Linked DNA regions of Homo sapiens. The protein of the gene in region 2 purifies or fractionates together with the protein of the main gene of each other region. This does not show direct contact. Each region holds a gene or a part of one and is shown on either strand. Other genes may lie near its edges. The genes, in order: CILK1, DEPDC1 and SAPCD2.

Region 1 (10,336 bases), on a different chromosome or scaffold from region 2:
TTTCTACACTCCTTAATTATTCCTCCAACTATCATCTCCCCAGCTATCACAAATTCTACCACCACATTGGCACTTTTCTTCAAATATCCTCATCACTCTTCTTCTGAACATCTTCTCTGATTAGAATTGGTCACTTATATGATCCTCTGAGCAATGTAATTGTCAGTGAGACAAGTTGAGAAGGGGCCAGATGTAACTACCACAAAAGGAGGCTTGCAAGATGCCTGTGAGTGATAAGAGCCCCCAGCGTTACCATACCTCTTTTGGGTATATTTCATTATTTAAGTCTAAGTGGCCCATGGGAGGATGGATTGGGAAAGGAGCTATGAAACCAGTGGACCTGACTTCATACTTCCGGTCAGTTGGTTGAATTGTAGTTAGTTGCACTATTTGAACTAATTAATGGATGAGTGATTAGAGCAAATTGCTTAAACTTTCCAAGATTGAGTTTTCTCACTCACAGAATTGAAAACAATAATGCCTGTCTCATGGAGTCTTTATTGGATTAAAAATCATATAAAATATATTCAAGCATTTGCACACTGTAAAGTGCTATGAAATACTAAGTGCAGTTACTATCCTAGGTCTATCTCATCTGTCAATCTCTTCAGGTTATGAGTCAGTTGGACTTTTACATAATATGAAGTTGCCTTTCAACAACCAGTACCGGCTTATAAACAAACTACTATATAATTGTAACTCATAGAGAATAGATTTGAAAACATTCTCCAAAGACAGATAAATATATGTTTATTTCCATTTCCATATAAATGGTGATATATCATGTGAATTACATGCCAATTTTCAAAGCAACTATATTGTTTACATTGTAACTACTTTATACCCAGTAAGTTTCAAACTATTTTAAGTTCTCATACCTTATATAGTACACCATTAGTGGTATTCTGTACTATTTCTCACCCATAATACTAAATACTAAATATTTCCTGTGCAATTCATAGAAATTATTCAGAGTTAGATATGAACGTTATAACAAGAAAATGGAAGAAAACCTGACTAGCTGTTGGTCGTTTCTTGGGATCCCACTGAAGCATGTCTCTCAGGAGCTGGACTGCTTCACTGCTAGCATTGGGAATCAAGGTCTTTAAGTTATTGGGTACACACTGTGGCCAACGGAAGTTCATTGCACTTGAAAGTTGATAGCCTTCAGGCCAGTCAGTCTGAAAGAAGGAAAAGATAGAAAATCTTGCTCAGCCAATTGCTGTGATATAAGTTTGTATTCTGGCATGTGTGCCCCAAATGGAAAGGCAACCATGTCATTACCCACCCACATTCATTAACCACCCACATTCACTACTGTGGCACTGTATGGAATGAGACATAGATTTAGATTAATAGAGAGACCACCAAGACCATGAAATCTGGGGGAATAGTGGAAAAGACACTGGATTTGCCAACTTAATTATCTTTACATAAGAGATTCTCTTGAGATTTTGGGATTGAAACAAATTAATATTTCCCCAACTGTGTTCCATGAGACAGAGGTTCTGAAAACTGCCAATGAGATATTCTTTTGGGGAAAACAAAATAAAACAAAACATTTTGTTCCTGGACAAATAAATTTGTGAAACTCTACCTACAGTATCTTCAACTTGGTGATTGAAAGTATACATGTGGAGAAAACCAGCAGTAAAGAAAGGTGTTTCACCCAGTCTCAAGCTTTCCACTTTTTCATGCATCATTTCTATGGGACACTAAATGCTGGAGGGAATGATGGAAAATGCTAAAGAAATGGTCTTTAAGGTTCCTTCTAGTTCTAACACTCTACTATTTTATAACATACAGCCTAAGGTAATTGTTCCTCCACTCCTTTTTAAAGCCAAGTGGCAATACATATAGCTTTTATCGTTCATTCACTTGACAGTTCTGGAATGCCTACTATATGCTTAGTGTTGTTGGAGATCCAAAAATGATCCAATATAAATCCTGCGCTTAAGAGTATTACTGTTCTTAAAAGAGAAAAGAGCATTTATTTAAAAATGGTATAATGCAGAGTAAAAACTGACAAAAGCTGCAAGAGATGTGCAGGTACAGATATGCAGAGGAGAAAGATTCCAGCATTGGACTCAGGAAACTTTCTTGAAGAGGTGGCATTAATAATTCATTCAAATGATTAAAAAATTTTTTTGAGGATCTAGTTTGCACCAGCAATGGTGCTGGGACCTGGGAAAATAAACATACAGCAAATCCTTGTCCTGAGTGAGCTTATGGTCTAGGAAACAACTATGTACGCAAATAATAATATTAATAACATAGGACACAGCTGAAGATGGGGAGGAGATTAGAGAAACAGTGAGGAGGGGGATTACTGACGGCCATGTGACAGATATCACTCAGGCAGAGGGTGTTATGTGCAGAGCACAGAAGCAGGGAAATTTCAGGGCATGCAGCTGTTAGGTGTATAGGTATGAAGTGAGCGATAGGAATAGGAGTTATGAGGCTGGGCAATGGGGAGTCAACCAATACTTTTATGAGGGGAAGTCAGTACCAGAGCTGTTCTTTAGGAAGCTGAATCTGGCCACAGACTGAACAAGAAGCCAGAGTGAAAATACTTCAAGGCAGAAAGATGGGGAAGATGACATTAGACACAGGGGGGTGACTGTGGTCCAGTCTGTAATGGCAGCAGTGGACTTGAAGGAACAAGAGCCATGTGGCAATATTCAACAGGATTTACCCACCAACCGCTTAGATGAAGGGAAAGGGGAGCAAGAGAAAGACAGAAGGTAAAGCTGAAATTCAGCCTCAAGGTGGGGGCTCTGGGATTATGATCAGACCACAAATGAAAATGGAGAATGAAAGAAGGAAGCTAGTAGGGTGTTAAACAAAAGGCAATGATGAGTTTGAGGTGATGGTGAGGGAGTCAGGAGAAAATCCCATAGAGCGTTGTAAACATGTGAGTGTAGTAATAATGGAGGGAGGCAGCGGCTAAGGATTACATTCAGGAGACTTCTGAACAGGCGTAGGAGTTGTAGCAATGAGAACTGAGAAGTTCTGCAAGGGAGGTGAGATGATACAGAGAGGAAGGCAGAAGGAGCCATGACAGATGTCATACTTAAGAACAGGAGGAGGAAGAGAAGCCGACCGTATCTGAGAACGTGGGCAGTGGAGAATGACTGAGGTCAAGAGAAAGAGCCTAGAATGGGCAGGTGCTCAATCATGCCAGTGCTGAACAGGGCTGAGCGGAGGAAGCATGGGAAGCTGTTGGCTTTGGCCCACTGGCCTTTGTTTTGTATCATTACCTTTTTTGGTGTCCCCAGCACTTGGCAAATTTTGAATATTGTGTCAATTTCACTGGCTCCAGGGAAGAGTGGCCTGAGGGTGTAAACTTCTGCCATGATGCAGCCCACCGCCCAGACGTCAATGGGGGAGCTGTAGTTGGTAGACCTCAGGAGTACTTCTGGAGCCCTGTACCTGGAGGAACAAAGGTTAACTGCTAGCTATTGCTTCCACCACTCAGACATTAAATTAAATAACAATCAGTTCTCAGTGAGGGGGTGTATATGTTCCTATTTTCTCTCTAGTTCACTGTGGTGTAATGGAATTGTGAGAACTTGGCAACTGCCGTGGGCTGCTGTTGACAAGTAGTGCTTCTCTAGTTCACAATATTTTCTACTGAGCATTTCTCTACAGGAGACTTCTCTATGGCATCTTTGAGAAACACAGAGAAAGTAAGAATTAGGAAAAAAGAGAGAAAAGAGAAAGTGGAAGGGAAAAACTAAGAGAGAAAGGAAGAGGGAGGAAAAAACCTACAACTTGTGTGTAGACTACTTGGTCATGGCAAACTGCTTAAATCAAATTCCCAGTGTCTCAAAGTTTTCACAATAGCAATTAGATGGTTCTCAGACAGGTCTTTGCAGAATATTTTACATAATTCTTTTGTTAAGCTGTCCTCAGGAAGGCCTATATATAAAATTTTATTTACATTATAGAAAAGCATAATAGGTTTTCTTTTAACATGATTTAGAACACAAGATTTTTAACCTTGTACATTACCAACATATCTATAAATATATGTTTCAGACTGCACTGTTTCTCTTAGTGAAAAGTTAACATTTGTGACTTTAATATTATCCTTAGCATAATGATATCTTTTTAAAGAAGTGCAATTAAATAATTTTGAGAAAAATGGTATTCACCATCTGGTAGATACATAATCTGTATATGGAGGTTTTGATCGTATTTCTCGGGCCAAACCAAAGTCTGCAATTTTCACAAGTTCTGGTCCCATGCAGAGGAGGTTCTCAGGCTTTAAGTCTCGATGAAAGAAGCCTATAGAGACAGTAGAGGAGAAGAAATCCAAATGCAAGTTTGCTTCGTATTATTCTTTGCAATTGTATTGCTCTCTGCAAAATAGTTATAATTTAAAAAGTAGTCTGGCATGGCACCAAAGGCTTTATGCATTCATCCCACAGATAATGTAGAGTCCTTCGAACTTCTCATAGGATTACTACATTCATTTCCCTTTGCAAATCATTCAAAGGTGTTCTTCATAATTTTTTTTAACTAGAGAGAAAATTTCTTTTAAAATATCAAACTGGATTATAGGCTGAGATAACTTTGCAAAAATAAACTGTCACTCAAGGGAAAAATATCACTGACGGCATCTCATTCTATTGCCTAGGTTGGAGTGCAGTGGCACAATCATAGTTCGCTGCAGTCTGGGCTCAAGTGATCCTCCTGTCTCAGCCTTCCAAGTAGCTGGGACTACTGGCACAAACCATGGTGCCTGGCTAGTTTTTTTGTTTTTTTTTTTTTTGTTTTTGTAAAGATAGGGTCTTGCTCTGTTGCCCAGGCTTGTCTTGAACTCTTGGCTTCAAGCTATCCTCCTGCCTCAGCCTCCCAAAGTATTGGGATTATAAGTGTGAGCCACCATGCCCGGCCCAGATAACTGTCTGATGGGAATTGAGAGTTTATACCACAGCAGAAACACAATTATAATTTTTGTTTAAGAAATAATTTATGAATATGACCTACTCATATCTGAGATTGTGGTGTATGTTGCAACATATGTTTAAATGTTAAGTACTTATTACTTTGCCTAGTGAGGAAGTACAATGGTACATTTGCAGCTCACATGAAAGGCAAAGATAACTCATTACGTAGGAAGCCTGTCTCAGCTATAGCAGAGCTCTGGAGGTACAGGCAGGAGATAGTCAACATGGCAATCTTCCAAGCTCACTCAAACGCCCAGTGAATTGCAATATATGTCTCTGAAAACCCCAAACCTCCCACTTCCTGAGAGTATCACCAACCTAGACATCATTTAATGTGGCTCCAAATCTCAATGGGACACCAATACTGGAAATACAACTCAGCTGCTGCTGATGCTATTATTTGTTACACATTATCATTGCTATCATTACAGGCTGAGTATTCCCTACTCTGAAAATTCAAAATCTGAGATGCTCCAAAACCTGAAACTTTTTGAGCACCAACCTGACACATAAAGAAATTGCTTACTGCAGCATTTTGGATTTCGGATTTTTGGGTTAGGGATGTTCAACTGGTAAAATATAATGTAAATATTCCAAAATCTGAAAAAATCCAAATTCAGAAACACTGCTGGACCCAAGCATTTCAAGTAAGAGATACTCAATCTGTATCAATGTTGTGAAAGCTGGATTCTAACTAGCACATTATGGGAGAAATTAATAGCCATCACTGAAGATCTACACGATTCCTTGACAACCTGTATGTTGACAACGCTCAAGTCTACATTTCTAATGTGCCTTCTCTACCCTTCTGAAGACATAAATCTCTATTTGGACAGCAACTGGATGTCACTATCATCCCTATGTTAACTTATCCAAAACCACTTTTGTCCTCTCCCAAATCATCTCCCCTTCCTAACCTTTGGATAAGATTTCTAGGTACCTTGCAGTTATGTTGGATCCATCCTTACCCAGTTATGAGATTGTGTCGTATTTTCTATCAAAACATCTCATATCAGCTAGGCGCGGTGGCTCACGCCTGTAATCCCAACACTTTGGGAGGCCGAGGCGGGCGGATCACTTGAAGGTCAGGAGTTCGAGACCAGCCTGGCCAATATGGTGAAACACCATCTCTACTAAAAATATTTTAAAAATTAGCCGGGCGTGGTGGCACATGCCTGTAATTCCAGCTACTCGGGAGGCTGAGGTGGGAGAATTGCTTGAACCTGCGAGGTGGAGGTTGCAGTGAGCTGAGATCACACCACTGCACTCCAGCCCAGGCAACAAAGCAAGACTTCGTTTTGGAGCGGCGCGGGGGGGTTGGGGGGGTAAATCTCATATCTGTCTCTTTCTACTTTCTCACTGCCTATGCCTGCATTGCCACTTTCTTGCAGACCTTCCTTGCTCCAGCTTCTCTCCTATAATCCTGACCACTTAAACACTATCTTTCCCTTGTCACTCTCTCATTCACCCACAAAAACCATCCATGACTCCTTTTTATATTAAACAGGGCTGAACTCCTTTCACTCTACCTAAAGAGAGAAACTTATTTTCCAACACTTATCAATACATGTAAAGTGTGCTCCAATCAGGTGCAACTCCTCATTCTTTGTAAGTTCACTGTACAGTCATGCACTGCATAACGAAGTTTCAATTAATGATGGACTGCATATATGATGGTGGTCTTATTATAATGAAGCTGAAAAATCCTTATCTAGTATTCACTATACTATACTTTTAATCATTATTTTAGAATTGTACTCCTTCTACTTACTAAAAAAAAAAAAAAAGTTAACTGTAAAACAGCCTGAGGCAGGTCCTTCAGGAGGTACCTAGAAGGCTTTGTTATCATGGGAGATGACAGCTCCCTGCGTATTATTGCACCTCAAAACCTTCCAGTGGGACAAGATGTGGAGGTGGAAGGCAATGATACTCATGATCCTAACCCTGTGTAGGCCTAGGCTAATGTGTGTATTTGTGTCTTAGTTTTTAGCAAAAAAGTTAAAAAAGTAATAATAATAATTTAAGAACAGTAAAAGCTTATAGAATAGGGATATAAAGAAAATATTTTTGTATAGCCATATGTGTTAAGCCAAATGTTATTATAAAAGAGTCAAAAAGTTAAAAAAAGTATAAGTTTATGAAATAAAAAGTTTCAGCAAGCTAAGATTAATTATTGAAGAAAGAAATTTTAAAAATTTAGTGTATCCTTGGTGTACAGTGTTTATAAAGTGTCCTAGACCTTCATACTCACTCACTGATTCACCCAGAGCCATTTCCTGCAAGCTCCATTCACAGTAAGTGCCCTATACAGGTGTACCATTTTTAAAAAAATTTTTTATACTATATTTTTACTGTACCTTTTCTATGTTTAGATACACAAATACTTACCATTGTGTTACAATTGCCTATAGTATTCAGTACAGTAACATGCTGTAGAGGCTTACAGTCTAGGAACAACAGGCTATACCATATAGTCCAGCTATGTAATAGGCTATACCATCTAGGTGTGTCTAAGTAAGTGTACTCTATGATGTTTGCACAACAACAAAATTGTCTAACAACACATTTCTCAGAACATATCCAGTCATCAAGTGATATGTAACTGTACTTATTTCCATTAATAATGTGCCCTTTACTCCTTTTTGTCTACATCAATCCCAACTTTTGCCATCCTCCAACACCTGTTTTGAGTTTCGCTTCTTCCATTATGCCATTCTAACATGGTAGCCTTCATTCATTCATTCATTCATTCTACCAACACATTTTCACTGAGCATCTGCTCCATGCCAGGCAACAGATTAGGTTCTAAGGATTCAGAAACAATGCAATGGACATGACTCTTGCCCTCATGGACATAATAGGCCCTCCCCTCTAACTCCAGTTGAGCTCTATCAACTTCAGGTATGTTAACCATTTTTTTTTTTTTTGAGACGGAGTCTTGCTCTGTTGCCCAGGCTAGAGTGCAGTGGCACAATCTCAGCTCACTGCCAGCTCTGCCTCCTGGGTTCACGCCATTCTCCTGCCTCAGCCTCCTGAGTAGCTAGGACTACAGGCGCCTGCCACCACACCCTGCTAATTTTTTGTATTTTTAGTAGAGGCGGGGTTTCACCATATTAGCCAGGGTGGTCTCGATCCCCTGACCTCATGATCCACCCACCTCAGCCTCCCAAAGTGCTGGGATTACAGGTGTAAGCCACCGCACCTGGCTAACCATTTTTTATGAATTAGACAGAAGCACTTTAAGGGCAGAGGCCACATTTATATTTCTTATGAATGCCTGGCACAGTGGCAGGAGCACTGTGGTCTCATAATATACTCTTGCTGATTGAACAAAGGACTTTCGTCTGTAGGGAACATTAAACAGCTTAATGTTAACACATCTACCTGAGCCAAGCACCAGGGTCAACTAGAGAGCAAACCAGAGCTGTGAGGAGGATGGGAGGGAGGAAACCCATGAGACAGCACTGAGAACTGAGAGAGAACAATGACCCAGTAGTGCAGGGGACAATGAGGGCTCAGAGCTGGTTGTCCTTGTGACAGAGGGAGTTGTATTAGTTGAATGAATGAATGAAGGCAGGAACTCTAGTAGGACTAAATCTATTAGTCAAGGTTGTTTTCCAAAGACTGTCACTGCCCTAGAGCAAAGGGAGGGTGATTGTGATGTGGTTATATGTGAAAATACACTAATTGCCATTATCATGGAAAGGAACAATATTTTAGTAATAGGACAATCCTCTCTGTTCATCATTCTAAAGACAACAGTACTTAATACTGGGTCAAGTTCCAAATGGATAGTATTATACTATGGCATAATGGCGGATCTGTAGGAGAAGTAGCTGGCATAGATGGACAAAGTGAATGTAATTACAGAGCCTAGAACCCAGTAAATACAGAAGGGGATGAAGGTATAGAAGTGATCAGATACATTCAAGAGGGCATAAGTGAGAGGAGGAAGTACTTCCTTCCCACCACGGGGTTGCTTTTATTTTCCACAATCCAAGGCATTGATGAGATCAAAAAAGTTTGACATGGGTTAAACCAGAGACAGGCACAGCAAGTTTGCTATTTTATAGCACATGCATACACGGGTTTGTATGTATATTGTGAAATATTTATGAATATATATTCCACTGCTCATTCTTTATCCTGCCATTGTACTGGTACACACCTAATGGCCTTCCTCATACAATTCCTTGAAATATCCTAGTGAACTTAATAGTAAAATAAACCAAAATTATACATAAGAACCAAACTTGAGGTTGTCAACTCAACAAATGCAAAGAGCATTCAGTATCAGTCAAGAATGGCCTTTAAAATGAATGAAAAGATTTCTGATATGGACACATTTAGATGCTTATGATCAGCCTAATTAAAGATTTATTCATGCCCACCACAGTGGGTGACATCTCTAAGACTTAGCATAACTGAGTCATTGTGTTTGGACCCTCTGTTCTTCAGAGCACCCTCCAGCTTGCAGAAGGCCTGATTGTGTGTTTCCATTTTGGAACTGGCTTAAGAATGTGTAAGGATACAAGCAGTGATTACAGTGATCTTTGGTCAACGCACCTGTGACCTCTGAAAATAGATGAATTGTGAGACCATGGTTTGTCTTCCTAAAAACTCAGAGTGTTCAAAACATTCCAGTGAAAAAAAGGAATGGCAAGCATCATTTTCTTACTCCACAGATGGGAAAACTGAATCATGGTGGCAGGGGGCGGTAGATGAATTACTCCCAATTCCACCAAGAAATGTGTCATAGCTATTATAGTGTCCAGCTCTACTCTCCCTTTCAATCCATATAGCTAAATCTTTTTTTTTTTTTTTTGTAAGACAGAGTCTTGCTGGTCGCCCAGGCTGGAGTGAAGTGGCACCATCTTAGCTCAATGCAACCTCCACCTCCCGGGTTCAAGCAATTCTCATGCCTCAGGCTCCCAAGTAGCTGGGATTACAGGCCTGCACCACCATGCCCGGCTAATTTTTGTATTTTTAGTAGAGACAGGATTTTGCCATGCTGGTCAAGCTGGTCTCCAACTCCTGGCCTCAAGTGATTCACCCGTCTCAGCCTCCCAAAGTGCTAGGATTACAGGCGTGAGCCACTGTGCCCGGCCCATATAGCTAAATCTTGATTTGTTGTTTTGATCCTCTCAAGTCTAGATTAATGCTATTTCCCCTCATAGACTCCCTTTTTCTCATTTAGTTGGGGTAATTATTATTTCCAAACTTATGTGGCAGTTCCGTTATAATGGGTCCTTTGTTCTGCAGCCCCTACCCACTATGGCAACTCCCTCTGGCATCATCTAGAACACCCACCACAACAAACTTGTGTCTTCTCTCTGCTCAGTTCTTCCTATCATCAATTCATACTCAGATGCAAGTATCGT
Region 2 (10,336 bases):
CAGAGCTTTTAAATTGGAGACGGAGGAATGGCTCTTTTTCCTTTGAATTGCAAATGTAAGGCTCTAACTCATGAACTTCAACTAGCCACATTCCTCATCATGTGAAGGAGCCATTGTCAAACACAGGATCAACACAGAAATAAGAGATGGAGGGATGGAAAGAGTCATATAGCTATTTGAGTCCCAGATTCTGTCTACATTCCTGACTTTTAGAGGTTGTTTATGGGAGCTGATAAAGTCTCCCTTTTTGATTAAGCTATTTTGAGATGAGTTTGCCACTTGCAACTGACTATTGCAGAGAATTTTAAGACTCACAATACTTACATGTCCCTTTTTTAAGTAGTCAAGATGTTTTTCCACTGCAGTCTGTAAGTAAGAGGGTACTTGAAGAATTTCCTGATGATGATCCATTAAGAAAGAAACTAATCTTCCAGCAAGAAGCTCATCAAGATCCACTTCTTCAGCACAGCATAACACACATCGAGAAAAGGTATGTATCATCTAGAAAAATATTAAAAGATGTGAATTTAAAAAGCTAAGGTTGCATACAAACTAGAATATCGGTAATTTCCAGGTAGCATTATGTGAAGTATTGGGAAAAAGTGGTAAGCAGCCCTCAGTTTAAAAATGAGGACAACGATTTATACAGTTAGAAATGTAAGAATTTGATTATACATAAATCCTTTTTAAAGTTTTTCCATGGCTGAGCATGGTGGTTCATGCCTGTAATCTAAGCACTTTGGGAGGCTGAGGTGAGAGGCTCACTTGAGGCAAGGAGTTCGAAGCCAGCCTAGGCAACATAGTGAAACCCTATACCTATGAAGAAATAAAAAACTAGCCAGGCATGATGGTGCATGACTGTGGTTCCAGCTACTTGGGAGAGTGAGGCAGAAGGATTTTTTGAGCCCAGGAATTCCAGGGTGCAGTGAGCTATGATCACACCACTGTACTCTAGCCTGGGAAACAGAGCGTGATCCTGTGTAACCAGAAAAAAAAAAAAAAAGTATATCCTTAATGTAATTCCCAAGAATTATAAAAGGCTTTGGTTTTTCTACAATTTTGTCACAATTTTATCAGTAAACACCATAGGTTCTATTAATACCACATATATATGTTGCTTAAGCTTAAAGATTGTCAGAGAACAATAACTAATTACATTAAATGAATCCCACAGAAAAACACAAACCAGGAGAATGTGTAACATATAGAACACTTCTATTCATAAGTGGTTGCAAAGCTGATGCCATTTAGCTTTTGAAATGCTGGAAAATAGTTTTTAAAAATGTTTATTCTGTCAGTCTTTAGACAGCAATTTAAAACACACATTTTTCAATTCCATCTTATGGGATCTTCAAATCCTGGGATAAAATTGATTACTCTCACTTATTACTCTCGTTACTTTCACTTATATCTATGCAACCCTCTAACTGTACCACACACACACACACACACACACACACACACCCCTCATTCTAAAATACTTAGAAATCAGAATTGTTTTAAATATTTCACACATAGTAGATGATCAGAATATTTATAGAATTGATACATTTTTAGTTTTATTCCTACACATCACTCGGGGTTTCCTGTCTCCTTCCATGGCTCAGACCTCAGCCTTTTGCTCTTTCTTCACACTCTTAGCCTTGTAGAGCTCATCTACTCTCATAGCTTCAAGTACTATCCCTATGTAAATGACCAAATCAATTTGCATTCTCCCCTGATCTTTCTTCACCTGGCTCATATTTCCAACATTCTGTTGGACAAATTTCAATTTCTCTTGGAGGTCCTATGACTTCAAATCTTAAAAGTGCAAAACCAAAATTATCACCTTCCCAGTCATGTCTCTGAAAACATCTTCCTCTATAAACTTCCTAGCTTTTTAATAGTGCTATAATTACTCAAGAATAATTCTTCTTCTTTATATTAGGTCTGTCATTGTTAAAGAACTATCTTTAATAACGCGTGGAAGAAAGCATAACTCCGGATTCCTTGCTATAAGAACCTCTTGTAAATTGAAGTTGCATTTTGAGGAAGTGGTGACTTAAAAAAAAAGAAAGAGATTAAAGATACTATTTCAAGAGTTCATTTCCAATCAATTGTCTGCATATAAATGCCCTTATCCTCATTTTCACAAGGAGCCTAAGGCTGTTTGGCAATAGTGCTTCCCAACTTCTTGTCCACGATGACCTACTTTTCCATTACTATATTCTCTGAAACACTGACTTACTGTATTAAGTTCCATTAGTTCTCTGCGTCCACAGTTATAGTCTCCTTAGGCTTTCAACAGTACCTACATTTCTTCTTCCTTATCCACCAAACAGAATTGGCACAAGGCAACATAACGTGGTCTGACTGGTCAATCACTATGAAGTGATTCAGGATGAATGAGCAGGCAAAGTCCTTAGCCAGGATTAACATCAGCATGTGAAAGTATAACAGAGTGTGCACAAAAGATTAATACACCAAAATTCTGCTGCTAGGAAAGGTTAAAGAGCCTTTCCAACCTAAGAATCTAGCACTTTAAGACTAAGACATCACTTGAGTAGTACTTTTACGTAGTTTGGTTTTGTTATTTTGGTTTATGAATCAGACTTATTCTTTCTATAAGAAATCAACTTACCAGTGACCTCGTACCCATTGCATCATGAAGTTTGGGCATATCAACATTTTGACTCATTCGGGAAATCATACGCATTAAAAGTTGAAGCTTTCTACGATTTGGTGGGGGAAGTAACAAACAACATAACTGTAGAGCATCGATGGCAACCCTCTCTAAATGAGGTTGCAGCAAGCCTAGAATACAAAAATACCCCCCCAAAAATCATCAATGACACTAGTTGCTTTCATACTACCAGTATATACAGCTATATAAAGAAGGTAAAATAATATCTTAGTATTTCATCTTTTAACTATTTCTAGAAATTACGTTCCTCTAAAGCATGGTAAGATTCTCATTATTTTCTTTACAACTTATTTCTAAGTATTAAAATTCTTCACTTATTACAAATAAAGTGACTCAGAATAAATGAAATTGCAAAAAAGAAAATAAGTTCCTTAGGTAAACAGAATAAATCTTGGTTATGTCACAGACAAAAGTCTTTTTAAATAATTCCTCTTGGAGGAAAAAAAATTAAGCAACTTCAAGGAAGAAAAGCCAGGTAAGCAAAACACAGAGTTAGTAAACACTCAAAGTTAATATTGCATGCATTGAAAGCAACAGCCTTACTTTGTGTGCCAGTCAACATAGAAGAAGCTGGAAGTAAAGAATTTTCTGAAAGTTCTATTGTACTTTTGCAGAGTCTTTTATTGATTGTGGCACTAGACTCTCCGAGTTCACTTTCCATAGCTGTTTGCACACTTGTGCTGCCTTGTCCAACATTTGGTTTCATGATAATTTCAGCCACTGGTGTATTGATATAACTATTCCTTCTTGTACTACTTCTTAAAAGCAAACTCTGAGACCTACAAAGCTGTTTTGACTTGCATTTCCCATTACACAACTCCTCTTGGTCTTGAACAGTCAAAGTAGAGGTTCTCTTAAAACCAGCACTGAATGGCTTTTGAATATTTTCCTCTGAATGAAGATTCAACAGGAATTCCTGTTTGGGCTTAGACTCTAAAAACAGTTTATTATTTTGTCCTTCTATGTTCGGAAAAGATTGATGAAAGACACTGGATGCCTCTTTACTTGAATTCCCTGGCACATCTACAATTCCTTCCAAAGAACAGCACCTTGGTTTGCTGTTAGAGGATAGATCATGCATATTACTTAACCCTATTAAATTATGACAACTTCCTCCCATTATGTCATTAGCACTCACTCTTCTGTTTCTTAAATTAACTAGCTGCATTTTCTTAGCACATCTTTCTTGAAATCCTGGATTGCTTATCTGTAGTCTCTCAGTAGAATCTGATTCTTCTTTGTTTTTTTCTCTATGAAGCAGACTGAGAAGAAGGCACTCAGTTGATTTGAAGGAATTCAAATTGTTTAAGTGAAGGAATTTTGAAGACTGTGGATCATCTTGAATTTTATGTATCCCACTGGATCTATCTGAAACTGTGATGTAGCCACAAACAACTACCAGGAAATGAAACAAAAATTAAGATGCAACTGTATGACAGTGGACAAAAATAAAACAAAAACAATAGTAAAGTTAAAAAATAAAGCATTACTATAGTATATATTGTTAGTATAGTATACACAGTAGTTGCTTAATTCAGAAGCCACTTAAATAGGACACATGCAACATTCGGTTACAAACGTGCAAGACAGATGAGTGGTTTTCCCATTTGTAATATAACTTTAAAAAATTATTTCAACAGCCTAATTAAATGGATTGAGCCAGAATACATTTAAAAAATCTGTTCTCAGTCTGCAAGTACTAGAAACCTCATAAATATAAGATAATTGTGGTATAATAAAATACATATATTTGATCTTTGTCCTTGGTACCTGGTATGGAGCTCCTAAAATCCTTGAAATTTCCTGAATGATAGAAGTCTTTAGTTACTCATAACAAGCCTATTTCAGCGTATCTGAGTTCATGCTAAGGTAACTGAGGGCCGGCCATGGTTTGAATTTTCATCACCAACTACAACCTTGTGGGAGGAGAAAGGGGCTAGAGATTGAGTTCAATTGACAACAGTGACCAATGATTTGGTCAGTCATGCCTTGGTAATTAAACTTCAATTAAAACTCTAAAACATGCAGGCTGAGGGAGTTTTCTAGGTTAGTGAACACATGGATGTGCTGGGATCACGGCATGACCAGAAAGGGTAGAGAAACTCTGTGCCACCCCCACCCTCATACCGTGCTCTGTGTAACTCTTCCATTTGGCTATTCTTGAGGTCTAGCTTTTATAATAAACTAATAGTCATAGTTAAAGTGCTTTTCTGAGTTCTGTGAATCATTGTAGTGAATTATTGAGTCTGGTAGGGGGTTGAGGGAAGTCCCGAATTGGTAGTTGGCTGGGCGGAAGTATGAGTAACCTCGGAACCTTATTTCACTGAATTTTAAAATAATTTGTAGGCTGCCACCTTTATATTTACCTATGGTTTTAGATCTTCTAAATTATAAGAAAGTTGAAAACTTTAACAAAATGAACTAAAATCAGTAAAATCTATACATACCCAAAATGTTTACAAATAATTCGTAATATTCAAAAGTAAGTAGAGGTTCAGGGAGATCTAGAAAATAATCTGCGATTGTTCTGAATACATCTCGTTCAAATCCAACATAAGTTGGATTATTCATATCATTGCTTCTTGGCCCTAAGAAGTAGAAGGCAAGAGAAAAAGGTAAAGTATATTTTAATTTAAATACAATTTTTAAACATAAAAAGTATAAAATCTGTATTTCATGAAGGAGCTAGGTTTAACAACAAATTCTGCCACAGTTCAAAAATTTAAAGGGTGTATTTCATTCTTCCTCATTATCTTTCCACTGGAAGCAGTCAATTGCTAGTATTTTGTTTAACATTTGTATACCTGAAAAATCATACATAAAGCAAAATTTTAATATCATTTTAAAAGCATTAGGGAAGCTTAGTTTAATAAGATTTTATTGTAATTCATTTTGTAAAGGAAAGAATATTTGGACAACACAAATAATTCCTTCAAATTGTCTTTTTGTAAATTTACATGTTCATGAATATATTTTGTCTGACATGAAGCATAGCCTTAATGAATTTAAATAATATCTTTACATTGTTGTTTCTTAAGCTTGACACAACTATTGAAATAATCATACCTACTCATTTGTGTTTTCCTCAAAAATAAGATCTGATCTCATTTTATAGATAAGAAAACTGAGGCTGAGAGTACCTTGCCCAAGATGAAAAAGACTCTGGTAGCAAAGTTTGAATTAGAAGTTAGAGCAGTGTAAAATAAGCACAAGGCCCAGGACTTTTAAAGCTACAACAACATTTAAAGTGTGGTTCATAGATTATATCACAGAATCATCCAATGTGCCTATTAAAAATACAAAGTCCTCTATGGAGACCATAATCCATGAAGGCGGGGCCAGAAATTTACTGACCTAGAAATGTTTGCTTCTGGTTCACTGAGTGTTTTCCAAACACTAACCTGAGAATCTTCACTATAGTAATCTTCTGGAGGCATATATATATATATATATTTTTTAAAGATTCCTGACCTACAGAATCTCTGGAGAGTCTCTTTAGTGACTGTGGTATGCATCTAGGTTTTAGAGCCATTATACTATCTTTCAAGTTAAAATGTTTCTCTTCCCAAGTCCAAATAATATTTCTTACTTCTCTGTTTCCAAACTTTTGTATGGACACACAAATGTGAGCACACACTGAAAAAGAATTAAAGAAAACAATTCACACACACACACACACACACACACACTCTTAACAACAGAGCAAAATAGATATTTTTCTAAGGACATAAGAAATAGTATGTGGAATAAAAGATTTGATAATCATTAGAAAGTTCTCTAAGACAGAAAATACATGTTTACAGGAATTAAAAATATTAAAAATATAGAATTTATAGAGAATCTAGGTTTGAGCTCTAGCTCATTTGCACTAAAAGAAGATACTCTAAGCTTTGGCTTTCTCTGTTGGAAAAATTGGGATGGTATACTGATTACTAATTCCTACATCTCACAGAATTACTCTGGGGGATCGAATAACAAGTAAAGTAAGTCTTAACACTGCCTCTGGCTAAATACATTGTTGCTAATTTGGAATCCAGTAAGTTATATAATTGGTATCGTTTAGGTATTACATAGACTGAAACGAGAAGGAAGACAGAATCCCTGAAGACCAGATGTCAGAGAAATCCCTGTCAGTATGCCTATCTGAATTCCTAACCATGAGCAAAGGAATGAAAGAGAGGAATAGCTAACTATACCTGGAAAGTAGAAAGACAAATTCAAGTCTTAAGTTCATAATAAAGATTTTAATCTTAATTTGATAAAATGTTTCTGTAAATATATTTAATTTATTGCTATTTATTCAATGTCATTTTATCATATTGACACCCAGTGGACAACAAAGGAATATAAAGTTACCCTGAACATTAATAAAACCCTATTAGCATTTAGAAAATGCTAATTTTGTATGAACTAGAAAATTATACTTGTAACTATTAAAACATAATTTAGCTTTTGATGATTTAGCTTATATCTTTGTACATTTAAAAAATTAACTTTGAAAGCAATTAGGATTTTGTACTCATACTAGGGTTTTATGTTACAAAAATCAATTATCACTGATCACTACGAAAAGCTTGATCAATTAAATGCTAAAAAAATTTCTGGATTAGTGACTGATAAGGTTTGGATCTGTCCTCACCCAAATCTCATGCCAAATTGGTAATCCCCGGTGTTGGAGGTGGGGCCTGGTGGGAGGTGATTGAATCATGGGGGTGTATTTCCCCTTTGGTGCTGTTCTTGTGATACTGAGTGAGTTATCACAAGATCTGGTTGTTTAAAAGTGCGTACCACCTCTGCACACAACCTTCCTCCTGCTCCAGCCATGTAAGACATGCCTGCTTCCCCTCCACCTTCTGCCATGACTGTAAGTTGTAAGTTTCCTGAGGCCTCCTCAGCCATGTTTCCTATACAACCTGTGGAACCATGAGCCAATTAAACCTCTTTGCTTTATAAATTACCCAGTCTCAAGTATTTCTTTACAGCAGCACGAGAACAAACTAATACAATGACAGATAATCTTTTTTTTTCATAACATAAAGTCACATTAATATATCTAGTATTCTATGCTTCTACACTATAGAAATACCAAGGAGTTCAAGCCATTTGAACTCTGAGCCTCACTGAGGCAATTAGTGTGGATTTCACTTAAAAAATCCTTTGAGATCCTCTAGGCTATGACTTTATAATATATGTGAACTAAACCATAAATAATATGCTTGAATTAAAAAATCGCCACCTTTCTAAACAGAAAAAATTAAGGGCTCCATAATGTAATAAATTCCACTAGACTTTCATTTATAAATAAAGAGAAATGATATACTTTAATTTTATCAGGACTTTATTAAATTTCCTTGGTTCTTGTTAAATACTATCAATATAACACACACACACACACACACACACACACACACACACACACATATATTTAACTTACAATTTGCTAGGCACTTCATGGCAGATAATACCCAGTGAGGGAGGTCATCTACACAAAAAGAAAAATATTACTAAGTAAACCATACATTTTTTATGATAGTATATTTTAAAATATCACACTTACGTGCAATTATATATATGTATATACACATACACATACATGTTACATTTGTATATGTGTGTATTACCAGGATTAAAAAGTATTATATGTTTAATAAGACACAGGATCAAGTCAATATTTTAAAATAGAAAAAGTCTGAAAAAATTATGGATTCTGAGTTTGATTCATATTACACATAACAATTAAATACTGCCAAATTGAGGATTATTTTGAGGGAGTGTTTAGATATAAACTCCACGTTCATTTTTATCTACTACCACTATCTTTTCTTCATCCTTGTTTCTATTCTGCCTATTGCTATGCTATTTGAATATTACTGATTTGGGTGAGACCTAAGATTGAAATGAACTGTATCTCACTATTATGCTGCTTTTATAGTGAAGTTTGCTTAAAATCTTTCGAGTGCCACTAAATAAAATATGTTCCATAGAAATCTAGCATTTTTTTTACACAGGGTTACAAAGAATAGAAATCTTAAATGAGGGAATATACTGTTAACCATATTATTTTAGGTAATGGAAGAAGGGACTGGTCTACAGCCACATACATATGCCACATAGCAAACTCATCAGTTTTAACATTTACCTTTTGCTCCTACAATTAAAAACTCAAAGTTCTTGCCCATAAAAAGAAAACCAAAGTAGCATATGTCAGTTAATTCCACAGACAGAAACTTATCATAAAAACATCAGCTACGATTTTGAGAGATTTATGGATACCTTTCTCATAATCTAAGTTTTCTAATACATCTATCTAGCTTGAATTATTTCCCTGATTTTTGTATCTAAATCTGAAATCAATCAACTATATAAATATATAAAACAAAAAAGCCAGTCCCTTTAGAATCCTCATCTTGAAAGTCTGAGCTTATTTTGTTGTGTTATTACAGTTTTGTATATATGTTTGACTCCTGTTAATTTGTACATAACTACTCATGTAAGCCTCATGAGAGTATGGACCATTTCTATCTTACTTATCATTAATCTTTAGCACAATCTCTGACGTGTTGGAGGCCCTCAACAAAAATGTGCTTAATCAAAACTTTTCTTATATTTGTATACCTTTTGGATGCTTAACTTTGTCATTTTTTTAAATACCATGCATGAATTTATCTTAGCAGACAAAATATTTCTTATACTAGCACGAATAATACTCACTTAAAAATTATTCCACTGTTATTACTAAAGAACTTATGATAGCCCCTCTGATGCTCCATGAAAGTATTCTACTTTCAATATTTGGGTCTCTCTTTACACTACTATAGCTGCAACCTTGTTGGCAAGTTTTTAAAAGTCCAATTATTTTATTAATACCAACCTGATTTGTTTTGTAGTATAACTACTCCACGTTTACTTGTATTGGCCATGTTGTACATTATATATTGGGGAATTACTTGTTTTGGATTTATGACTTCTTCTAGGGATGGCACACCTAAAATGGTTTGCAGGCTAAATAGAAGAAAGAATATTAACTTTTTTTCTTCATAAATAGATTATACATATGAATATGACTAGTAAACAAAGCCATCAGAATATTTTATTTTTTTAACCAAATTTCTAAGACTTATATTTAGTATCCCCTTTCAAATACATTTATCTCAATAATCTTAAAAGGATTCCAATATATATCCCAAACTATGGCCATAATGTTGATTCAAAGAAAAGGTGAATCATACCGAAACATTCAATTTCTACTCTACTAGAGCTATAACAAGAGTATTTATTTAAAAACACATATACAGGTTGCATTCTAAGCTTTCAGAATTAATCTGTTCTGATTCATTTGCATATTTTGATGAAAATGTCAAATTAATAATCAGAACACATCAGGAACTTCATTAAAGCTTAATTTTATCTTACTAGATCAGAATAACATATCTCCAAACTTCTTCAACATCTTCCTGGCTTAGTTCTCTATTATCAATTGCATTTTCTTGATCTTCATTGATTATTTCATGCTTTATTTTCTCGCCATTTTCCTGAAAAAAGGATTATTTTGGTTTAATCTGTTATGCTCAAATTTTTTAAATATTGAAAGCAACAATAATTCTATTACTATCAGTCCATTGTGGAGCTATAAAGTATCTCCCAAAGAAATAA
Region 3 (10,271 bases), on a different chromosome or scaffold from region 2:
CGTCTCCACTAAAAATACAAAAATCAGCCAGGTGTGGTGGCGTGTACCTGTAGTCCCAGCTACTTGGGAGGATGAGGCACGAGAATCACTTGAACCCGGGAGGCGGAGGTTACAGTGAGCCAAGATCGCACCACTGCACTCCAGCCTGGGTGACAGAGCGAAACTCTGTCTCAAAAAAAAAAAAAAAAAAAAAACCGGGCGCAGTGGCTCACTTCTGTAATCCCAGCACTTTGGGAGGCCAAGGCGGGCGGATCACCTGAGGTCTGGGGTTTGAGACCAGCCTGACTAACATGGAGAAACCCTGTCTCTACTAAAAATAGATACAAATATTAAATATAAATATAAATATATAAGCATGGTGTTGCATGCTTATAATCCCAGCTACTCCAGAGGCTGAGGCAGGAGAATCGCTTGAACCTGGGAGGCGGAGGTTGCCATGAGCCAAGATCGCGCCATTGCACTCCAGCCTGGGCAACAAGGGCGAAGCTCTGTCTCAAAAAACAAACAAACAAACCGAAAAAGAAAAACAAATCATGCTGTTACAGGAAAGAGGTTCCAGACCTCAAGAGAGGGTTCTTGGATCTTGCGCAAGAAAGAATTCAGGGCAAGCCCATACAGTAAAGCAAAAGCAAGTTATCAGGAAAGTAAAGGAATAAAGAATGGTTTCTCTACAGACAGAGCAGCCCTGAGGGCTGCTGGTTGCCCATTGTTATGTTTTTTTGGATGACATGCTAAACAAGGAGTGGATAATTCATCCCTCCCCTTTGTAGACCATATAGGGGAACTTCCTGACGTTGCAGTGGCATCTGTAAACCGTCATGGTGCTGGTGGGAGTGTAGCGGCAAGGACAACCAGAGGTCACTGTCGTTGCCATCTTGGTTTTGGTGGGTTTTGGCCGGCTTCTTTATCGGAACCTCTTTTATCAGCAAGGTCTTTGTGACCTGTATCTTGTGCCGACCTCCTGTGTCATCCTGACTTGGAATCCTTTAACCATCCAGAAATGCAGCTCAGTAGGCCCCAGCCTTATTTTACCCAGCTCCCATTCAAGATGGAGTTGCTCTGGTTCACACACCTCTGACAGTGATCTAGGACCCAAAATGAAAACTAACATCTCCCTCATGCTGCCCCGTGGACCCCTCAGGCAGTTGTGTTTCCTTGCAGTTGGGTTCTGCCCCCACCTCCACACACATGCCCTCACTGAGTTTGGGAGGGGGCTTCACCCCTGGGGCAAGGCCCACATGCACTCTTCTGGACCTGCATGGAGTTGCTTTTCGGGCCTGCCTCAGGGTCTCTGCACTTCCTGTTCCTCCCTCCTGGACCGCTTGTCCCCAGAGAAACGTGTGGCTGGGGACGCATTTGGTCAGGCCTCAGCTCCCCAGGCCACGCCCACTCGGTGAGCACCTTCCCATCCTCCGTGCCAGGCTGCCTTTCTGCATTCTTGGCTACCTGACTCCCCTGTGAGAAGCGAACCCCACAAAGGCGGGGAGTTGCTGTTTTTGTTTTGTTTTGTTTTTTGTTTTGAGACCGTGTCTCATTCTGTCGCCCAGGCTGGAGTGCAGTGGTGCAATCTCGGCTCACTGTAACCTCCGCCTCCCGGGTTCAAGTGATTCTCCTGCCTCAGCCTCCTGAGTAGCTGGGATTACAGGCGCCCGCCACCACACACAGCTAATTTTTTGTATTTTTAGTAGCGATGGTTGGCCAGGCTGGTCTTGAACTCCTGACCCCATGATTTGCCCGCCTCGGCCTCCCAAAGTGTTGGGATTACAGGCATGAGCCACCGTGCCCAGCCCAGGCAGGGCATTGTTTAGGCCAGTGGTCTGCCCCCATCACCTCAGGTAAATGCAGCACACAGTAGGCACTCAATCAATGTTTGTTGATTGAACAAACGAGTGTTGAACCCCAGCCCACACCGTGACTGGGCAACAGCAAATGTTCAGGGAGTACCTGCTGCATGAATGAATTAATGAATGGCCTGTTCTGCTCCAGTGGTTTGTGGTGGTTGAACATCGTTTAGGTGAACGTTGGAGTTGGAGGGGAGGCTCGCGGAATCCGGTGAGCAGAGCAGGCTTCCCGCCCCAGGCCAGAGTCCATGGGAACCCTTATCACCCCTGCAGGGCTGGGCAGCAGAGGAGGCACATGTCTCTTGGAGGCAGGTGTCAGGACATGAACTGTTGGCCCTGTAGGTCAGGGTGATTCCAAATCCCACCTCAAGGTGTGGGTTGGGCTGTAATAGAAGATTTGGAAAATCAAGGTTTGTACAGCCAGAGGCACTTGCGGCACCAGAAGGGGAGGAGCGACCCTGCCCAGACCGACAGAGCCTACGGATGGGTGGGAGTGCTGGCAAGGCTGAGGTGGGCAGCAACCTCCTGGACCACCTTGTGGCCAGGCAGTTGTCTTCACAAGAGGCCCAGGGGAGCAAGGCCCTAAGGCTCAGAGGCCAGGAGTGCAGACGGGGAGCCCTGGGAGGCTCAGGGGCTGGGTGGCTGTTGCCAGTTCTTCACTTGGTGCCCACTGCTGGGGATACATCAGGGGACAGAGGGGCCGGTCTTCCTGCCACCTCTGCCCAGAGTGGTCCAGGCTTACACAGTGAGAACACAATTACAGCTAAGATGGGGCCTCCAAAAGTACAGGGACAGCATGGGACCCCCAGGGGTGACACAGCACTAAAACCTGAAGGATTGGGAAACTATCAGGCCAGCCGGAAAGTGGAGTGAAGGAGGAAGTGGTCAGAGCTCAGGACAGGAAGGACACAGGACCACATCTTAGCTCCACGCCCAAAGCCAGGCACAGCCTCCAGTCTTTTTTTTTTTTTTTGAGACGGAGTCTCGCTCTGTCGCCCAGGCTGGAGTGCAGTGGTGCCATCTCGGCTCACTGCAAGCTCCGCCTCCTGGATTCACGCCATTCTCCTGCCTCAGCCTCCCGAATAGATGGGACTACAGACGCCCGCCACCACGCCCGGCTCATTTTTTGTGTGTGTGTGTGTTTTTAGTAGAGACGGGGTTTCACCATGTTAGCCAGGATGGTCTCGATCTCCAGACCTCGTGATCCTCCCGCCTTGGCCTCCCAAAGTGCTGGGATTACAGGCATGAGCCACCGTGCCCAGCCTTTTTTTTTTTTTTTTTTTGAGATGGAGTTTTGCTCTTCTTGACCAGGCTAGAGTGCAATGGCGCGATCTTGGCTCACCGCAACCTCCACCTCCGGGGTTCAAGCTATTCTCCTGCCTCAGCCTCCCGAGTAGCTGGGATTACAGGCATGGGCCACCATGCCCGGCTAATTTCGTATTTTTAGTAGAGACGGGATTTCTCCATGTTGGTCAGGCTGGTCTCGAACTCCTGACCTCAGGTGATCCGCCCGCCTTGGCCTCCCAAAGTGCTGGGATTACAGGCGTGAGCCACCGTGCCCGGCCTCCAGTCTTTTTCATACCTTCCTCCAATACCCAGCCAGGGGCCACAGAGAAGCCCACAGACCAAGGGCCAGCTGGGGCCGCCTCCCCCAAGGCTCTGGATGGTATGAAAAGCCCTTGTTTCATCTGCACGGTGGGTTCAGTTCCATGCGGGGCCATGGCTGGCCTGGCCTGGACACTGCTGGCCACGCTGTCCTGAGCTGCAGCAGCCTTGCTCACTGCTGGCCACCGACTCCACATCCACACTGGCCTCCCCTGCCATACCACTGAGCTGTTCCCAGCCCTTCCCCATCCCTTAGGCCTCAGCCTGGCTTGGTGCCCACTCAAGGATGGTGTTTCCCATATGATTTCACTGGATACGGCTCCCCAGTGCCATTCACAGAGCACCCACTGTGGGCCAGGCCAATGCCAGGCCTAGAAGGAGCCCTGTCCTGCTTGCAAATAGCCAGGGCCCCCTGGGCCAGGAGAAAGCTGTCCCCTGTGTTTTATCTAACTAGGCTTCAGGGGGAAGGGGACTGGGGCCAGAGCAGAGTTCTGAAGGATGTAGTGCGGTCAGCCTGGAGCAGAGGGGAAGGGCCTTCCTGGTAGAAGAGCCACCAGGCACAGGGGCCTGGAAGTGAGGGAGTGCAGGGACCCCAGGCCTGGCACTGGCGGTGAGGGGTGTGCTGGAAGCAGGGTAGGTGTGGGGATGGGGGGGCGGGGGCTTGCGTGTTGTGCTGGTTTGTTTTGTTTTGTTTTGTTTTTGAGACAAGATCTCGCTCTGTCACCCAGGATGGAGAGCAGTGGCTCAATCACAGCTCACTGCAGCCTCAACCTCTTGGGTTCAAGGGATCCTCCCACCTCAGCCTCCCAAATACCTGGGACCACAGGCATGCACCACCACGCCTGGCTAATTTTTTAAACTTTTTGTAGAAATAGGGTTGCCTTATGTTGCCCAGGCTGGTCTTGAACTCCCCAGCTCAAGTGATCCTCCCGCCTCGGCCTCGTGCTGGGTTTTTGAGCAGACCAGCCATTAAAGGGGAAGCTGGCTTACAGGACCAAGCTCTGATGGGCTGCTCCAGGCTCAGAGCTTCTTATGTCCTTCCAGCATTCCCTACGATGAAGGAGTCCCACTTAGAGTGAGTGACCCAGAAGAGAAGTGGACCCAGGATACTCCCTGGCCTGGGAAGATGCCTCTACAGCTTGAGACACAGGCACCAGTGGCTCAGGCCTGAGGACAGAGACCCAGGTAGGTATGCCAGCTGAGGCCTGCCCAGGAGGGAGGGTGGGAGACCCGCAGAGGGCCAAGGCAAGTCTCGGATTGGGGGCCTGTCTGGGGAGGGTGTTTGCACCCTGAACACCTCCCTGGAACCTAGAGGGTACTACTGGCCAGCCCTGAGATGGGCTCCCAGGGCTAGAACCCAGGCTAAGGCCTGGTCTCACCTCCCATGTGGACAGACCAAATGAAGACAGAGTGACCAGATCCCAGCTGGAAACACAGCAGAGGCAGGGGGACAGGGCTGCGGGAGCCAGGAGAGCAGCTGGAGGAGGTGTCCAGCCAGGGGAAGGAGGAGAGGAGAGCAAGAGGCAGAGGGAGCTGGTCACTAGATGGGGATCTGGGGACACAGGAGAAAGTGGCTTTGTTCTGCAGCAGGCAGGCCAGGCCAGACTGTCCCGAGGGACCAGAGGAGGAGCCAGCAGCAGTGGGGACAGAAAGGCCTCTGTGAGTGGGAAGCGCCCAGCTGGCTGGAGCCTACGATCCTCTTGGGGCCCTCCTGGTGGAAGAGAAGGGGGCCGCAGGGTCACCTGTGCTTGCGGCCAGGGAACTAGAGGGGAAAAGTGGGATCTTTGGAGGGGGTGCCCCCCCCCATTCTTACCCCACGAGGCTACCTGGAGACAGGTTTTTTTGTAGGGTGCCAGGCCCCGCCCCTTGGAGAGGTGGCCGGGGCAGCCAGCCACAGCTGGATCCGAGAAAGCGCCTGGCCGCGGCAGGAGGTTTGGTGGGGCTGGGGCGGGGCAGAAAGGAAGGTCTGCGAGGCCAGAGTGGAGCAGGAGCTGGGGGATCCGGTTCCGCCTGCCCAGGGCCTCCGCGCGCCTCCCAGGGCCACTCGGCAAGAAAAAAAAAAAAAAAATCAAACCTCCTCTCAGCCTATCAGAGAGCAGATGGGACGGGCTCGGCCAATGGCCGCGGCGCATGTTAATGAGGGCTGACGCCGCGAGGAGGGCCCCATTCAAAAGTAGTCGCTATTGTCGCCGTGGGCTGAGCTCGCCGGGCCGGCCCCTCCGTGGGGCCGCGCTGGGACGCACGCGGGTGGACGAGGGGACCGATCCCGGGCGCCCATGGCCGGGGCCGCCATGGCCGAGCGGGGCCGCGTGCCTCCCCCCGCACCCGCGCCCAGCACGGAGGGGCTGCCGCGCGCCTTCCTGCAGAGCCTGCGCACCCTGTTCGACATCCTGGACGACCGGCGGCGCGGCTGCGTGCACCTGCGCGAGATCGAGTCCCGCTGGCAGGGCACCGACGCGCGGGAGCTGCCCCGCGGGGTGCTGGAGGGCTTGCGCCAGGTGGCCCCGGCCAGCGGCTACCTGACCTTCGAGCGCTTCGTGGCCGGCCTGCGCACCTCCCTGCTGAGCGCCGACGGCGGCCCCCGGGACCCCACGCGCGCCCCGGCCCGGCCCGGGGATCAGCCGCCGCCGCCGCCGCAGCGCCTGGTGTTCGCTCCGGCCGACGAGCCGCGGACGGTCCTGGAGAGGAAGCCCCTGCCCCTGGGCGTGCGCGCCCCTCTGGCCGGTCCCAGCGCCGCCGCCCGCAGCCCGGAGCAGCTGTGCGCCCCGGCTGAGGCGGCGCCCTGCCCCGCGGAGCCCGAGCGGTCCCAGAGCGCGGCGCTGGAACCGAGCTCCAGCGCGGACGCAGGTGAGTTCCGGACGGCCCCCGGGCACCCTCGTAGCTCTCCCGGGCCCGGGCCAGAAACCGCAGTCCCACAGCTGCTGCCCGTGCATTTCCCACAAGGGACGGGACCGGGGAGCGGCTCTTCGTGGACTCCGGATCCTGGAGGGCGCCTCGGCGGGTCTGGAGGGAAAGGGCTTCATGCTTGTCGCGGTGAGCCCAGGGGCTTGCTTAGGGAGGCAAGCCAGACCCTCTCCTGCCACAGCATAAGGCCACCAGGGCCGGGGGGTGGCAGGTGACTCAGAAAACCCACCGGGAGCCCAACCTGTACCAAGCCTGAGCTTGGGCTCTCCATCTCCAATACCCTTTCCGCACCTGGGGACACCTGGGCCCTCAGCCTCCTGTCTGTGGCTGCTCAGGCAGAAGTGCTTCCTTCTCAAAGAAAGGGTCCCCCTTCTCAGTGTGACAGCTTAGCCAGGGGGGCTGGGCCCACTGACCCCACTGAGGCCTAGGCAGGCGGGGGCTGCTGCTGGTGGCCCAAGAGGACCTGGCCCTGTTGCCAAGATGGGCAGGGGCGTGGGTGGATCTCCTGCACCCCAGTGGGGCTGTACTATGGCAGATGCCATGGAGGGACATAGGCCGTAGTCCCTGGGGATGGCTGGCACACTCCTCTCCTGCCTTCCGGTCCAGTTGGCAGTGATGGGAGATTGCTGAATGGTCCCCTGTCTCCCCCAACCCAGTGCCTGCCTTGGGAACAGGACCTGTATTATGGCTGGGGTTGGGGGGCCAAGCTCCCAGAGGGGCCCCAGGCCCCACAGCCCATTCGGCCTGTGCACCCGTTCTGCCAGGGGAGGCCTGCCCACCGGTGGCTCCTGCCGGTCCCTGTGCTGCCTGCTGCTCTGCCACCCTCCCTGTACTGCTCCCCCACCTCAGCCATATTCTCCAGCCCTACAGCTGGTGTTTGGAGCCACGGCGGCCCTGGCCTCCCTGGTGATCTGATCCAGCAGCCACACCAGGCTGGGGGACCCCTAGTTCTATGGTGAGGGAACCTTCAGAGGGTATCTGGCTCCAAATGCAGGGTCAGCGTCATCCATGTGGCCATGCAGTTTGAAATCAGCCATGGGATTGCACGCTGTGGCCGGGCCTGGGGTTTGGAGGCCTAAGCCTGTGGTCCACCCCTGCTCTGCTCTGATGCCCCATGCGGCACTGGCTCACGTACCACATCTCCCTGAAGGCCACATGGCTAGGGCTGTAGCTGTCACCCTCTCACAGGCAAACGGAGGGCCAGACAAATGGCGTGACATATTTGATTGACACAGCTGGCTTTTGGGGTGTCAAATCTGGAGCTCTGAGGTCACCCCAACTCCCAGAAAGCCTGCCAACACACACAGCCTTCCAAGCCCCCAGCCCAGATGTTCAGGGCCTCTTTCCTTGTTCCCACCTGGGACTGCGTGTTTGCTCCAGGCTGGCTGTGGCCCTGGAGGTGTGGCCTGCTGGCTCAGGGCCCTGGAGGGGCAGAGCCACCACCCCCACCTAGAGGCCATCTAGCTCATCACCCAGCACGCTGCTATCTGGGGACCCAGGAGCTGCTCTATGGACTCAACTGTACAGACCGGGCCCAGGTGTCCTGGGACTTCCTCTATGGCCTCCCTCTGTCTGTACCCTCTCTGCTCCCACCTCCTGAAGGGCTGTGTGCTCTTCCACTGTCTTGCCCCAGAGCTGCCAGCCGCTCAGCACCGCAGGCTGGAGTGCGAATTCGGGCCTGCCTGGAGCCAGGCTCTCTGCCGTGCCTACCTGGGCCCAATTCTTGCATCACTCCCTGACTCCTGTGGCCAGGTGCCAGGGGCATGGCCTCTAAGGATGTGCCTGGTGCTGGGGCTACAGCTGGAGGCCGAAGGAGGATGCCTTCCTCCACACCTGTACCCACTTCTGTAGCCTGGGGAGGTGCACCTACTCCCTCACCAGGAAGCTGGGCCGGAGTGGCACCAACGCGATACTCTTGGCTGCCCCCAGGGGGAGCCCTCAAACAAACTTCAGAGCAGGGGTCTGTGAGCACCAGGACGTGCCTGACTTGTCAGTTGGGTGCACCGCCTGGCGTATCACACACGCGGGACTTTTTTTTTTTTTTTTTTTTTTTTTTTTGAGATGGAGTCTTGCTCTGTCGCCCAGGCTGGAGTGCAGTGGCGCGAATCTCAGCTCACTGCAACCTCCGCCTCCTGGGTTCAAGCGATCCTCCTGCTTCAGCCTCCCGAGTAGCTGGGATTACAGGTGCATGCCACCACGCCCTGCTAATTTTTGTATTTTTAGTAGAGACAGGGTTTCACCATGTTGGCTAGGCTGGTCTTGAACTCCTGACCTCAACTGATCCCCCCCCGCCCCAGCTTCCCAAAGTGCTGGGATTACAGGTGTGAGCCACCGTGCCCGGCAAGGGATCTTTTTTTTTTTTGAGACAAAGTTTTGCTGTGTTGCCCAGCCTGGAGTGCAGTGGCGCAATCTGGGCTCAGTGGAACCTCTGCCTCCCAGGCTCAAGCAATCCTCCTGCCTCAGGCTCCTGAGTAGCCGGGACCACAGGTGCATGCCACTGCACCAGGCTAATTTTTGTGTTTCTAATAGAAATGGGGTATTGCCGGCCGGGCACAGTGGCTCACGCCTGTAATTCCAGCACTTTGGGAGGCTGAGGTGGGTGGATCACCTGAGGTCAGGAGTTCAGGACCAGCCTGGTCAACATGGTGAAACCTCATCTCTACTAAAAAATACAAAAAGTAGCTGGGCATGGTAGTGGGTGTCTGTAATCCCAGCTACTCGGGAGGCTGAGACCGGAGAATCACTTGAACCTGGGAGGCGGAGGTTGCAGTGAGCCAAGATCATACCATTGCACTCCAGCCTGGGCAACAGGAACAAAACAACGTCTCAAGAAAAAAAGGAAGAAATGGGGTTTTGCCATGTTGCCCAGGCTGGTCTCAAACTCCTGAGCTCAAGCGATCCACCCGCCTTGGTCCCCAAAAGTGCTGGGATTACAGGCGTGAGCCACTGTGCCCGGCCATGCGGGACTAACTTTCTATCAGAGTCACCATCCTGGGAAAAGTTAGGTTTCCGTCATTCACACCCACATCTCCTGCTGCCTTGCAGGACCCCGTGCAGATGGGAGAGGCGTAGTCAGGACCAGAACCCCCCCGCCCACTCCTCCCTTACCCAGCTGCCTTGGAGACCCAGGGTGTGCCTGCCATGTTCTGGGCACTGGGTGTGCAGAAGAGAGCTGGATAAGGCCTCTGGCCCCAGAGAGCTCACGGACCGATGAGGGGGCAGGGTGTGTGTTTGAGCAAACATGCGGGCTTGGCGGCACAGCCCTCCCCAAGCCAGTGTGAGGAGCTGGAAAGGGGAGAGGGACCAAACTCCAGCCTGGCACAGAGGCTACACGTGGGCCATGCCAGGCTGGTGCCCGAGACCTCGAGGGTGGGCTGAGATGTGGAGGCCGCTGCACCTCAGCAGAGCCTGGCCAGGCAGGTCTGGAGGTGAGCCAGGCCCATGCCTCTCCATAACAGGTGCAGTGGCGTGCAGGGCCCTGGAGGCGGACTCAGGGGATGCCCGGCGGGCTCCCCGTGCCCGAGGGGAACGTCGGAGGCACACCATCGCCAGCGGCGTGGACTGCGGCCTGGTGAGCAGGGACTGGGGCTCTGTGGGGCTCTCCATCTTGCCTGGAGGCTGGAGGCCGGGATGGGAGCAGGGGGGCCTTGAGCCTGGGGGAGTCCATGGCGGAAGTACAGTCAGCTCTGGACATCTCTCTCCCTACCTGGGCTTGACTCCCCTGGAGGGATGGCCCAGGGTCAGGCAGAGGGAGGTCAAGAGGTCGTTTAGGGCAGCTATGGTGGCTGCCCAGCCCGCCTCACGAGGTTGCTGCTGCAAGCCAGTCTGGCTTCCCAGCTGTGTGCTCACCACAGGCAGACTTCGGGAGGGTGGGCTCAGCTGAAGGGTCCGTCACCCCTCCCCCAGGGAAGCCTGAGTGGA

The links.
Region 1: the proteins of DEPDC1 (region 2) and CILK1 purify together in Homo sapiens (affinity purification with mass spectrometry; 2 studies listed by BioGRID and IntAct, with this or other methods). This does not show direct contact.
Region 3: the proteins of DEPDC1 (region 2) and SAPCD2 purify together in Homo sapiens (affinity purification with mass spectrometry; 2 studies listed by BioGRID and IntAct, with this or other methods). This does not show direct contact.

What each region holds. Positions count from the first base shown.
Region 1 is NC_000006.12:53,015,070-53,025,405, forward strand, and holds part of CILK1 (serine/threonine-protein kinase ICK), read right to left. Parts: intron 4,291-10,336; coding exon 4,158-4,290; intron 3,433-4,157; coding exon 3,261-3,432; intron 1,182-3,260; coding exon 1,014-1,181; intron 1-1,013.
Region 2 is NC_000001.11:68,478,820-68,489,155, forward strand, and holds part of DEPDC1 (DEP domain-containing protein 1A), read right to left. Parts: intron 10,216-10,336; coding exon 10,097-10,215; intron 9,686-10,096; coding exon 9,555-9,685; intron 8,166-9,554; coding exon 8,118-8,165; intron 5,272-8,117; coding exon 5,131-5,271; intron 4,886-5,130; exon of another isoform or gene 4,079-4,885; coding exon 3,227-4,078; intron 2,794-3,226; coding exon 2,621-2,793; intron 502-2,620; coding exon 325-501; exon of another isoform or gene 310-324; intron 1-309. UniProt on the Homo sapiens protein: May be involved in transcriptional regulation as a transcriptional corepressor.
Region 3 is NC_000009.12:137,065,912-137,076,182, reverse strand, and holds the start of SAPCD2 (suppressor APC domain-containing protein 2), read left to right. Parts: upstream 1-5,625; 5' UTR 5,626-5,722; coding exon 5,723-6,293; intron 6,294-6,389; coding exon of another isoform or gene 6,390-6,479; intron 6,480-9,808; coding exon 9,809-9,921; intron 9,922-10,271. UniProt on the Homo sapiens protein: Plays a role in planar mitotic spindle orientation in retinal progenitor cells (RPCs) and promotes the production of symmetric terminal divisions. Negatively regulates the mitotic apical cortex localization of GPSM2.